Linked DNA regions of Homo sapiens: region 1 is linked to region 2. A link means that fine-mapping ties the variant in region 2 to the expression of a gene that starts in the linked region. Tissue or cell type: monocytes after interferon gamma. Region 2 holds a variant in brackets; the other region holds the start of a gene. All regions are shown on one strand. Distances are between the middles of the regions.

Region 1 (2,912 bases), 32 kb before region 2:
CGTTTCAGGCTGGATGGTGGGTTTTCTCTTTGGCCTTTCAACTCAGAGCCACGTGGTTTCTCCTGAATAAACAGAAAGGAATCTCTTGAATCTCAGTTGTGACAGTTGGTTGCAGCAGTCATTTTAATGCCCACTTGGAGAAGCCAAAGGACACCCATACTCAGGCACAGTCGATGGAGGGCAAGTCCTGGTTCAGCACCTGGCACCTGGTACCTGTGTACCTGGCAAATACAGTCGAGGGAACAGCATTTCAGGCCCTTGTCAGGGAGGACCTCCCAGGATGACACTGAGGAGGCCCCTGAAATGATCCACAGCCAGGTCCTGGCATCCCCCTCTTTTCCCACCCACAGTATCCCTGGAGGCACTGAACAAGCTCTGAATCATCAGAGCTTTGTGTCTGGAGTCCCCTATTCAAAGGGGCGCAGGTCTTTTCATTTCCTAGCATCCCATGTGCTCGGAACTAGAGCCAAGAGATCTGAATAGAAAGTAGATGGAGAGCAGCTGAGGATGAGAGGGAAGAACCCCTGAGAACTTTTTGAAGTCAGCTTTCCCCTCCGTCATTTGCTTGTGACAGACAGCTCCTGGGGCGCAGTTTTCCTTAGCGCCTCCAGGCAGCAGAGACAAAGACTCTTCTGAGATGTCACCTGCACCCCTTGGAGCAACCGGCGTTGGCTAGAGGGGACTGTCATGCTCATTTGTCCCGATAAGACATCGGAGCCTTCACCCAACCTGCCGCATGGTATCCCTCTCCAACGCCTCCCACCCCTTCCAGGAAGGCCCTCTATTTAGGCAGCTGTTTTCCCTGAAGCCGGGTTTGCCCGGAGTTCTGTGTCCCATTCCTGGAACACTGGTGCGTCTGTGAGAGACACCGGGGCTGGCTCCGCAGCCGCTGTGTCCTGAAGGAGGCGTGTTCCGGGACTGAGGGGGCAAGGACACGTAATGGCGGGGGGCGGGGAGTGGGGAGCCACCGGCGGGAAGACGGGGAGGGAGGGCGCGTCTGGGGCGTGTGCGCCCAAGGCCAGAGGCACCCGAGGTGGGCTGGCCCAGGGTGGAAAGCCTGGGCCGAGCCCCTGGAGCGGGCGGAACGGCGAGCCAGATTCAGGAAGTTGTGCCTGTGACATCAGGGGCAGGACAGAGTTGGAGCGAAACCTCAACTATGCCAGGCGTCGGCCCGTAGGAAGGCAGGGAACACAGAGGGCGCTGCCCTCGGCGGCAGCGGCAGGTACGCGCGGGGGTGGAGCGGGGCGGGGCGGGGCGGGGCGGGCGGCTCCCACGACCTTGGCCGGCGCCGGGGCCCTACACGCCAGACCTGGCTCGGGGTGGGAGTGCAGAGGCAACCAAAAAGGAACCCACACCTCCCTCCAGGGCCCGGGGCGCTGTCAGACGGGGCAGCAACCAGGAGATTCCCTGGGCCTGCAGGAAGCCCTTCCGCGGACCGAAAGGTGAGTTTCAGGACTTTCTGTTATGTTTTTTAAAAATACATTTTTAAGCGCCCTCTGTTTGGAAGAAGACGCCCAGTCACTCCTGTCTTTAGAAGGATGAGACCTGCCCCAGAGATACAAGGAATTATTCCTAAGTAGCCTCTTGCGCCTTCACAACTTTAGTTCTGGTGTGTTTCCCTCCTTCGCGAGGACTCTCAGGAGTCTTCCTCTCTGCGCCTGGGCTGAGTCCACATGAACTCCTCGGAGGTCGGCGGTGGAGTTACCTTACTCCAGCTGCCGGTAGGAGCGCTTTGAAGGGGACACATGGAAATTCTGTTTTTTACTGAGAAAGCTAAGGCCTGAGACCCTCCGGAAAGCATCGCGGGCTTAGGTGTTTCTAAACCATTCTAGGTGAAGCCAGATTTTCTCTGGAGCTAAGGAACTAGCCAAAACGAAAATATGGCGTGGAGCCAGGGGCGGAGAGGAAACCTGTTTGCTATTCTGAGAGTTTCCAGGGAGCTTGCTGTGACACAGATTACTTCCTAACTTCTTTGACTCTCAGTGGTCCCACCCCCAGACCCCCCATCCCACCCATGAAGGTAGAGTGGGGGACATAATAGGACCTGTTTCCCTAACATTCTGAAGAGCTTTACGGGATTCATCATATGATAATAGAGTTAAGTAAACTATAGATGATAGCTAGTGGGAAGACCAGTCCTGCCTAACCGAAAGGGAAACTGAAGCACAGACAAGCACTCACCCTAATTTAACAGAACACCGGCAGCCAGCATGCCATGCTACTTAGCGGGATTGTGCCACCGATTGCGTTATACGAGGAAGGGAAGGAAAAGACCACTGGAGCATCTTGGAAGCTCCTCCCTTCTAAAGCAGTTGCATTTCATTTGCTCAGCTACAGCTCATAAGGACCTGAAGCTAATTTTAAGGAACCCTCATTCTGAAGTTCTGTTAGATAATGGGAGAGCCTTGAGTTACAAAGAGCAGGACTTAAACATAGCATTGATGCAACCTGTTCCTAACCCTTTTGCAAATGGTTTGCAAGTTCTATCTAAAGACTTCTGCAAGCGTCTTACCAGCCTTTAAACTGGTTCAGTTGCATCAACCACTTAGTCTGATGTGCCTGCCCTTCACCCAGTGCTGGGCTGGAGAGGCAGCTGTACAGGAAAATCTGACCAAGTCTTTCCTTTTGTCTGAAATTCTGCCTCTCTGTCCCCATCCCAGATACAATTTTAGGAAAGAGATGCGTTGTAAAACAAAAGTTTCTTTGGCCTCCATGCATTGTCAATATTTGGCCTGTGAAATGAGTATGACTTCTGTCCTCTTCCCTAAAGACTAAACCCAAGAGAATAATAAACACTCAACAAACTAAGTTATTGATTTCACCAAAGAGGGAGATGCATCCATTCCATACATTCATTCAACATTTGCCAAACCTACCGTGTGCAGGCCAGTATACCAGGGCCTTGGAGTCCA
Region 2 (2,912 bases):
TAATATTTGGGTCCTGGAGAATGTCTTACACCAACAGGCCTCTTAAATTTCCTTGAATCATGCCTGTCCTTGAAGTCTTGTTTGTACACAAGAACCTGTAATTCCAGAATGGAAGGCAGCCTCTAAGACCTTATACTTGAGAGCTGAGCTTTAAGATATATGTGGAGGGGTGACCAGGGAAGAGGGGCAGCTCTGTACAAGCAACCAGGAGAATGGCCCCAGCTGTATGCTGAGTTCAGAACAGGAACAGGGAGGCACCCAGGAACCTCACTCTGGTTTCCAAGCACCATCACTAAGCAGCCTGCAAGGACTCCTCTCCCATAGAGAAGAAAGAGAGCAGGAGACTTTGGAGTATTTGGTCAAGGAATAGAAAACATAGAGAAGGGTAATGAGGAAGAGGAAGGTAGAAGGTAGAAAGTGGAAAGCCAGCAAATGGTCACCCCTGGTTCTCTCAGCCTTGGGAGGAGAGGACTTCTCAGGCACAGGAATGTGATATAAGGAGGGGAGGAGACATGGAGCAGGGAAGAGATCATGAGGGGACAGCACGGAAAGCAGGCATGGGGCAGGATGAGGACTGATGACCTCTTAGCCCAGAGGAGACCCAGGTTCCCTACTACAGACAGCAAGAAGTAGACATCTCACTTTGTGCTTAAGCTTCAATAAGCTTTGAAAATGGCAAGTTATGTTAATAAAAGGTTACATACAGACCTGTCCTGTGGGGAGTGTGTGTTCAACATCTGTCAGGTGAGCTACAGTGGAAAAAAGATTGAGAACTGCTGTTGCAGAAGGGTCCAGGGAAGCAACCCCTTATCAGAACACTGAACACACACATTGATTCATTTATCCAACAACTACTGAGAACTTCCTACGTGCCAGACCTGATATACTATTCATTTTTATATCCTAAGCCCAATATAATGTGTGTACATAGCAAGAATTAGTTGATGCTTATTGATTACATGCATGCATTTATCTTGTTTATTGAGTCAATACAAGTTTACTGAACCCTGGAAATCTTCAATTCCTTCCCCTTTCCTAAGCCTAAAATCTATGACACTATTAAAATTGTAGACCAGTCCCCCTGCATTTCTCTTCAGTTGTCTGTTTTAATCTCTTCAGGTGCTGCCAGTGGCATGCCCAAACCCAAAGCTGGAAGAGGAATAAATTACAAGTGGTCAAGGTTGCATCCTTTTGAGCCCAGGACCTGCTTGTAAGCCGAGAGGGTTCTCTGGCCCTAATCTAGCCAAGCACCATGGAGAGAATCAGTGCCTTCTTCAGCTCTATCTGGGACACCATCTTGACCAAACACCAAGAAGGCATCTACAACACCATCTGCCTGGGAGTCCTCCTGGGCCTGCCACTCTTGGTGATCATCACACTCCTCTTCATCTGTTGCCATTGCTGCTGGAGCCCACCAGGCAAGAGGGGCCAGCAGCCAGAGAAGAACAAGAAGAA[G/A]AAGAAGAAGAAGAAGAAGAAGGATGAAGAAGACCTCTGGATCTCTGCTCAACCCAAGCTTCTCCAGATGGAGAAGAGACCATCACTGCCTGTTTAGTTAGGCAGGAAGCAGAGGTGTTTCCTTTCTGGGGCTAAGCCTCCTTCTGACCACACACAGACATTTCAGGAACCCCTGAAATAATGCACTATGTCCATGTCCACAGAGTAACTACTCAACCAAGGAACAAACCTCAGACTAAGTGTCCCAGTGGAGGGCAGTCCCAGGGACCACGTGGACAATTCTTGGATACTGTCTTGGCAGCTATGTGTCCAATAGCAATGCTCCTTACTGCAGACCCAGGCATGCCTCCCACCTGTCTCTGGCATACCCCACATGCAAAGCACAAAGAACATTTATCCATACATCTCAATATGGTTCCCAAGTGTGTGCACATGCACGTAACACACACACACACAAATTCAGGTAGCAGGTACGTGGGCAAGTATATTCTGCTCATCAAATGGTCATTGGCTATGTACTTTGTGCAGGGAAGTACATTATCTACAGTCACAAAAATGTCTCATGGGAAAGCCTTGCCAGATTCAGACACATATATACAATTTCCTAACCAGCAAGGCCCCCATACACCATCTATTCCATAAACCACTCAGGTTACAGATGCATGCTTTCCTATTTCTAACTCTACACATAAACTTTTACTGGAAGTACTCATAATTGGACATTCCAGCAACCTGCTACAGTCCCCACCCTTGTGTGTCTTGATACAGACACACCAAGTTTCTGTGCCTCTGACCCCTCACCTGTGCCAAGATGTTTAAAGTGTGATGGTTCAAAATTCATTGAAAGCTCTTTTCTTGTAACTCATGACAAAGTCCGTCCTCATTGCCACTGAGAGGTGTTTAATGTGATCCAAGACCTCTCTGTGAAACATTACCCCCGCAAACCACTCAGCAAAGTGCCTTTCTCCAAGCAAGAACAAAGAGCTCTTGGTGGTGACTGCTAGAAAATTATGGAAGCCCACTCATTTATGTCAGTGGACTGCAACTGTGTACCTGTGCAATGTTTACAGATGGAAAGGGTGAGGAGATGCTACACCTGAGCTAGGTATCTCCTATATAACCAAAGTTTCCAGCAGGGAAGGAACTAGACAATCATCAGTGCAGTCTCACAGAAGGCAACACTGGAAGTGATGTCATAAGGTTGTGATGTGTGCACGGTATGGCACAGGTGGGATGCAGAGGTAACAGAGTTTAAATGAAAGTAGGATGAAGCTATAAAGAGGTTTATTTATATTTATATTGAAGCTCAGGCAAGTGCCTTGCACACAGTAGGTACTTATAACTAACTGTGGTTACTGTTGGATATGTGATGTTGTTAAGGGTAAGCTTGTAATACCTCACCAGTTCTCCCCGAGTGATCTTCTCTTCTAAGTGAGCCCACTAATTGCTGCAATGGA

Which allele goes with the higher level. Alleles are on the strand shown, and positions count from the first base shown. SD is a standard deviation of normalised expression in the study named.
For the expression in monocytes after interferon gamma of the gene that starts at base 1,306 in region 1, G is the low allele of the variant in region 2 and A is the other (large effect, 1.1 SD a copy in Fairfax 2014).

What was found.
Region 1: KIAA0040 starts here. The variant in region 2 is fine-mapped to the expression of KIAA0040 in monocytes after interferon gamma (Fairfax 2014, PIP 0.95).

The regions. Positions count from the first base shown.
Region 1 is chr1:175,191,170-175,194,081 of GRCh38, reverse strand. KIAA0040 reads left to right here and starts at 1,306. Exons shown (of 4, transcript NM_014656.3): 1 at 1,306-1,442. RefSeq lists enhancers at 644-753, 1,474-1,623, 1,864-1,913, 2,054-2,103.
Region 2 is chr1:175,159,354-175,162,265 of GRCh38, reverse strand. KIAA0040 reads left to right here. Exons shown (of 4, transcript NM_014656.3): 4 at 1,120-2,912. The coding sequence starts at 1,253. The coding sequence ends at 1,552. Among named protein-coding and RNA genes, the nearest start is that of KIAA0040, 32 kb to the left of the region's middle. The variant G/A (reference allele first, on the strand shown) is at 1,456.